2 linked regions of the Homo sapiens genome follow. The protein of the gene in region 1 purifies or fractionates together with the protein of each later gene. This does not show direct contact. Each region holds a gene or a part of one and is shown in the gene's direction. Other genes may lie near its edges. The genes, in order: TAPT1 and FSD2.

What was found.
Region 2: the proteins of TAPT1 (region 1) and FSD2 purify together in Homo sapiens (co-immunoprecipitation; one large-scale study listed by IntAct). This does not show direct contact.

Annotation. Positions count from the first base shown.
Region 1 is NC_000004.12:16,181,422-16,185,253, reverse strand, and holds part of TAPT1 (transmembrane anterior posterior transformation protein 1 homolog), read left to right. Parts: intron 1-3,832. UniProt on the Homo sapiens protein: Plays a role in primary cilia formation. May act as a downstream effector of HOXC8 possibly by transducing or transmitting extracellular information required for axial skeletal patterning during development. May be involved in cartilage and bone development.
Region 2 is NC_000015.10:82,754,530-82,757,965, reverse strand, and holds the end of FSD2 (fibronectin type III and SPRY domain-containing protein 2), read left to right. Parts: 3' UTR 1-2,604; downstream 2,605-3,436.

The DNA of each region.
Region 1 (3,832 bases):
TTCAATAAAAAAGATATTTTATAAAACAAAATTTAGTGAGAAGAGTTTCTCAACAAGTAATGCTGGAACAGTTGGATAAAGGTTAAAAAAAAAAGAACTTTGGCCCCTTCCCTGCCCAAGAAAATTAATTCATAGTGGTTCATAACCCTAAACATAAATGCTAAAGTTATAAAACTTCTAGAACAAAATATAGGAGAAAACATTCACAACCTTGGTCTAGGCAAACATTTTTGGAGACCACACAAAAAGTACTAAATGTAAAACAAAAGAGAGAAACTGGACTTCTTCAAAATTAAAATATGTGATCATAAAACTTAAAAAGTGAAAAGGCCAGCCACAGTACTAAGAGAAAAGATTTGAGATGCATATATCTGACGATAGATTTTGTTTGTTTGTTTTCTGAATATATAACAAACTATACCAATCAATAATGAAAGGACAATCTAGTTTTAAAATGGGGAAAAGGCTTGAACAGACATTTCACAAAAGAAAATCTATAAATGTCCAATAAGGTCATGAAAAGCTGCTCGGCATTATTAGGGAAAATGTCACTGGAGAAAGACAAAGCCATAATGAGATAGCACTGCACACCCTCCAGAGTGACTGCTCTTGTAGCCTGACAGTGCCACAAGTTAGGATATGGATTAACTGGCACTCAGGCATCGATGGCGTGAGTGTAAAGTATTACAACTGCTGTTTTTGGCCATTTCTTTTACAGTTAAATGTTCACCTGCCCTGTAATTCAGGAAATATATTTCCTCAGTAGGACTTGTTGCAAGAATTATTATGGCAGCTTTGTTCATACTAGCCAAAAACTGGAAACAACCCAAATAGCTATCAGTAGGAAAATAAACAAACTGTATATCCATACCATAGAATACTACTTAGCAATTAAAGATAAAAGAATGAACTCCTAATATTGTCAGCTATGTAGGTCTCAGAAGCATTATGTTGAGCAGAAAAGCCAGACACAAAAGTGTACATGATGTATTATTTCATTTATATGAAGTTTATGATCAGACAAAATTCGTTTATGATGATAGGAATAAGAGGTTGTTTGTTGGGCATTTGGATTGACTAAGGGGACTCAAAGGAGCTTTCTGGATGATGGAACTTCTTTCTGTATTAAGGGCTTGGTGTCTCAAGTTATGCATTGATCAGAACTCATCACATAATGTACTTAAGATCTGTGCATTTCACTGTATGTAAATTTTACCTGTATATTAGACAAGGAAAATAATGGCATATGAATATGTTAAACAAGTTATAGGAGATTTGAAAACTAAGCAAGGAACAAAAAGAACAAATGGAAAACTTGAACATAAAGCCTAGATGATTCTATGAGGCCATGCTGGACCTGACTCTCAAGGCTCTGAGAAGCAGTTCATATTCTTGCTGCTTATTAATGTTGCTCACCTTTCAAGTGCAGACTGCCAAGTGTCATGAATTAGAAATGAAAGAGGAAGGAGGGAAGGTACTAAATTATAGAATACTTTGCTTCAGTAGTTAACCATAGAGTAAATTGATTCAACTGTAAGAATTTCGTTTGTTGTGGAAACCATGTTTTTTTTAAATTAATTCATATTAGTAACCTCCTTTGGGTAAGTGCTCTTTATAGAGCCTTAAACTAGACACGCAGATCTTAAGTTTTAAAGGTTTTCAATCCTTGTGTATAAAAGCTTCAAAATTATGAGGGGGAAATTGTGAATGTTTTTAACCTTATGGCCAGCATGTTGATGTAATTAATACCCCTTTTCATTTTTATAAACGGGTTCCCCAGAATTCCAACCTCTTAGCTTAGAAAGATTAGGTATTCAATATTTGAGTTTTAAGAAAACTCTGGGAAAAAAAATGATATAATGATCAGGTATGCATATCAGTCTACAAGAAATTTGGACTTTATTTTGGCTTAAAATGGTTACTACTTAGCACCAAAAAAAAAATTACTTTTTGCTGTAAGCAAAGTAGCTCATGTTACAATGCAAGGTGGTCCGCATTGTACCCTTTAAGAGTTTTATAAGAAATTAACTTTACCCTAAGGCAGATTTTAAGACCCTTCTCAAGTAAGAAAAAAAATATTCTAGGCAACGTTCAGCTATTAAAATGGAAAGATCAGGAGTCACCAAGAGGTGCTTTTTACTCTTTATATGAATATGTTGCCTTCTTCATATGCTTCAGTAGTAGCTACTTAATGAGAGCCAGTCAGGAGGGATACTCATATCGGCTATTTTTTTCTTATGAATTTTCCTATGAATTTTTTCTCCATCAGAATTTGAGTTGCCAGATACGTAGTGTAAGGTTCAGTCCTTCATGCTGGTTTAATATAGAAGACTTCATGGAGAAATCTGAGAGTAACTTTACCCCTTTCAGTGGTAGCTCACTGTATATTTTCTTTGGAGGAATTGCCTGAGGACATGTGAAAAGTAGTTTAGTTACCAAAACCAGATTTTTAACAAATTATCCTTTTCTTCACTTCATTTTAACATAAGCGTTAGCTGAATGTGGAACCCCAGCCTTTCTGGTTTGCATTCTTGAGATGAAGAATTTTAGGTAGTTTTTTACGCATTGGTAATGTGAACTGTGCATTTAGAAAGGTCCTTCAGGAGTTAGGTTGTCTGGAGTAAGCTTATAGCTCACTTAGCACTCTTAGAAGCCTGCATATCTGCAATAAATGTGGATGTTTGTTGGAAATAGTCACTCATTTTATATTTAAAATGTGACTGCAAGTATGTTAAAGTATATCCCTGTTAGTGGTAATATAGCAAGGAAAAAGCTTAATAACCTGAATGTCAGAAATATTTTAAAAGCATTAATACCAATGTTTTTAAGCTTCTTAATAAAGGTTAGGAGAAAACATTCCTAGAAATTTTAATTTTTAATCAATGTAAGAGTTCAGTTCTAATCCGAACCCTGACTATTCTGAAGATGAGATGGTATAAATATGTTGCTGATTGCATTATTTATCTAATATATGTTTGATTATCAGTATCAGACTCTGTTATTCTCATAAAAATTTTATTTCTTTTTATATCTTACTTTGGAGAAACTTAAAATTTGGGTATTTTTTAACTCAAATTTTAAAAGTCAAATCTTGATTTTATAATGTCTATGTAAAACATTTAAATGTAAAAGTTGTGAAAGTGTAAGAATAAAACTTCCAAAAAATCTTCACATAACAGCCTCATTTTTATAGTTAGATATAGTTTTGTATCTTTATCTTATCAAATAAAGATAGAGTTAATTTTTATGGTGTCACTTTTTAATCTTTAAGCTTGCCATCCTTCACATCCTTCATCTTATAAAATCGCATTCATTTACCAAATTTATCCATTTTTATTAATCTCTATCATATTTTGAAATAGTCTGCTTTTCTAAAATTTGTTTTGGGCCAGGCACAGTGGCTCACGCCTGTAATCCCAACACTTTGGGAGGCCAAGATGGGCGGATCACCTGAGATCAGGAGTTGGAGACCAGCTTGGCCAACATGGTGAAACCCTGTCTCTGCTAAAAATATAAAAATTAGCCGGGCATGGTGGCACATGCCTGTAATCCCAGCTACTCCGGAGGCTGAGACAGGAGAATTGCTTGAACCCGGGAGGTGGAGGCTGCATCCAGCCTGGGAGACAAAGCAAGACTCTTGTCTCAAAAAAATAAAAAAATCTTAAAAAATAAAATCTGTTTTGCCTTAAATACACCTTTAATGAGATAAGTTTTTCCCCCTTTCATCAGTATCCTTAGAAATGAAATTATTGCAGATTTTCTCTATACTTGCAGCTGCCATATGTCCAAAAATCAAATACAATTAATTTAAATTCGATGGTAGTTTTGCTTT
Region 2 (3,436 bases), on another chromosome or scaffold:
GCACTCCAGCCTTGGCAACAAGAGCGCAACTCTGTCTCAAAAACAAACAAACAAACAAACAAAAAACCTCTGATGTTTTCCAGCACCTGCAAAGTCTGACAAACTGAAAGACTCTCATCTCCTACTAAACTCTGCCTACTCGTATAAATGGCAGCTCAGATTCCTGAATTAACAATTCACACTGACAATTTAATAACTCGTTATACACACACACACCTATCCTGCCAAGCTGGACTGTCTACTCTGAAACAAGGGACAGCAGATGTAAGCACAGAAATAGTTCCAGTTATAAACAATTAAAAGATACATATCATGTATATTTAAAAATGTTCTCGGCCGGGCGCGGTGGCTCACGCCTGTAATCCCAGCACTTTGGGGGGCCAAGGTGGATGGATCACAAGGTCAGGAGATCGAGACCATCCTGGCTAATACGGTGAAACCCCGTCTCTACTAAAAATACAAAAAAATTAGCCGGGACTGGTGGCGGGCGCCTGTAGTCCCAGCTACTCGGGAGGCTGAGGCAGGAGAATGGCGTGAACCCGGGAGGTGGAGCTTGCAGTGAGCCGAGATGGCTCACAGATCAAGACTCCATCTCAAAAAAAAAAAAAAAAAAAGTTCTCAGCTACTGAAATAGAAACTACCAAGTAAGAAACAGGATATCACAGAGAAGGCAAGTTTGAATTCAGGGTTCTAATAGGCTTTATGGAATACTACACGTTAGTATGAACACGGATAAATGGATTAAAAACTCAACACGTATAAAGTTTTAATTAAATTTTTATTTGACCAAGAAAAAACTGTCTAGAATTGCCTGACATTTAAAATCCACTTAAAGCAGATTAGCAACTTCAAGCATCACAATTATTCAGCATAAAGAGCCTTTGTTGAAACATCTTTCTCATTTATTTAGAAGAAAACATCTAGAACAGAACCAAGCAAAACTTTTGTATTTTTGTAAAAAATCTCAATTCCTGAAACTACTATAAACAATCTACTGAAACTGTATTCAGCAAGGGACAGATTTACCTCAAGGCCATGTTCACCTGCAACCTGCTGATAAGTCTGTTAAAAAACAAAGCAAAAAAAAGAGTTTTTAAAAATTAGACCACTGTAGCCACAATCCCTAACACTGGACAGTTAAAACAAAAGTTATCAAAATCTGTTCTTTTCTTAGCTTTACCTGTATCACTTTATAACTCCTGAGAAAGTCATTCACATAAGCTGTGGCCTCCCCACCTTAACAAAGGGGAAAAAGAATATGTAAAACCACCACAGAATCTTGGCGTAAACTAACATGGGTTTAGTAATACAGAGTACAGTATTCAGGATTTAAGGCACCCTTACAAGTCAGAATTGGAAAGTTGGTTTGAGACTTGCAATCTAAAATGACACTGATTTCTGATAAAATTAAATGACTTTTATTTAGAAAAGTGTGTTTAATAAATTACTTCCTGCTGGTTCAAATGACACACAATCACTTTGTATACATCCAATAAGATATTTCTGAAGTGTATACTTGGTCAAAAGTAAAAAGCAGAGCAAATGCATGGACAGTGGGGCCTTCTTCTTAATACTTCTCATCCTCCAAAATCTGTTAAAATCATCATCTTCCACAACTCACACACTGGAAGCTGTCCACAGCACAATTCACTGTGATGTGGCATTCTGTAAATAAGACTACATTGGTCTTGATGCAAGGCGGTTCAGCTACCAGACTGCACTATAAGAAAAGTCCTCTCCTCAACTTACCAAGAAAACTTCGCCAATTTCTAGTCACCTTCCTATCAATTAGTAGAGCAAGATTCTCACATGTTCACTATGTCTTTCTCCAGTTTTCTCATCTATAAGTGTACTACTCCTATTTTCTATAGGAAGACAATGGAAAGCGTGTAATTGCTGTTGGTAGATAAGTAGGTCTTGAATTTATTTTGCAAACAAGACCTGTTCTATCTACCTTTTCATTTAGGAGGCTAAAAGCAGAGTCAGCTTGATTTCAAGGACTCTATTTTCTTAGTCTCCAGAAGAACATAACCAAATCCAGCTTTTAAAACACTGTCCTTTAACAAGTCAAGATACTCAAATAAAGATCATGTATAACTTCAAGCTATAGGAGATTAACTCTGTACATATGCTTGTTTCACTGTAACCAATGGTTAATTAATCTAAATGCAAGAGAAAAGTTATTTGGAAAGAAGACCCCAGCTGGTCAGCATCTTTTCTGTCATCAGGAAGTCTCCTGGAAGGAGTATGACTATGACCTGGGCACAACAACTGCCCCTAAGTTAGTACTTATTTTAGAGTTGCTACTGAACAGGTGGTGGTTCTTGTCAAGTATATCATGTCTGACTACTTTACTGCTTGTTTTCTGCTATCACCAGTTCCAGAAAAAAAAAAAAAAAAAATTAAGCCCAACTCACTAATTGATTGCTTTTTCATTTTCCCAGACTGTGACAGAATCATGGTTTTTAGCTCTATTTTCACCTTACTCAAATCCTGGAGGAATTAAACTATCATTTATTTGAAATGTTACAAATTAGCCTGCAGTTGATTCAAACAACATGTAGTCACTCAGACATAGCAAATAAAAATGTTTTGGTATATGAACTTGGATTCTAATCTTGCTGTCTCTACTACTCTCATTCCTAAGTATAAATGTTAGGTCTCTTGCTTGAAAGGAATTTAAGAGATGCCCTTAAATTCAAACAGACTGGCTCGCAGAAAGGAATATAATCCATTCACTGGGAAAGTACACAGCCAACAAAACTGAGATTTCCCAACTATGCACTGTAACAATGCAGAAACACAGTTTTAGAGATGGCTTTACTGGGTATATACATCGCTCTTGGTAGACCCATCTATTATTCTGCCACCCAGAAAGATTCTTACCCTCCTACTTCCTTCCAAACATTCATTTAATTTAAAGGTGACAGGGACAGGGAGAGGGAAGGAAAAAACAAGAAGCACTATCCAAAAGTAAGAACAGTACTCTGGAGAAAGGTAAAAGATACTCAACACTGTTTTTTGTACCATTTACGATTTATAAATCAGCCACAGAGTCCTAGGCACCCAGAATGGACCTCCCCTTCCTTGTCTACCTAATGCCTGTATAGCTCCAAAATCACCTCTTGGAAACACTGCCTTATTCCTCCCCCTCCCAGGAGAGGTTAAGTGCCACACTCACCTCTTTTAGATTACTTCAGTGGCTATACTGCAATCATTGACTTGTGTCTGCTCCACTTGACTATAAGCAAATTGAAGGCAGGGTTTGTGCCTTCATAATCTCTGAATGATCTGAAGATGGAAATAACTGCTTTGTGCTTTCAGGGAGCTCATATACCTGCAAAGAGAAAAGAGACATCAAATTATCTTCCAAAATCAAAGGAAAAGCCTCTTTATTAGAAAGCAAAGCAGCTTTCAAATTTGTGTGTGCTTGGGG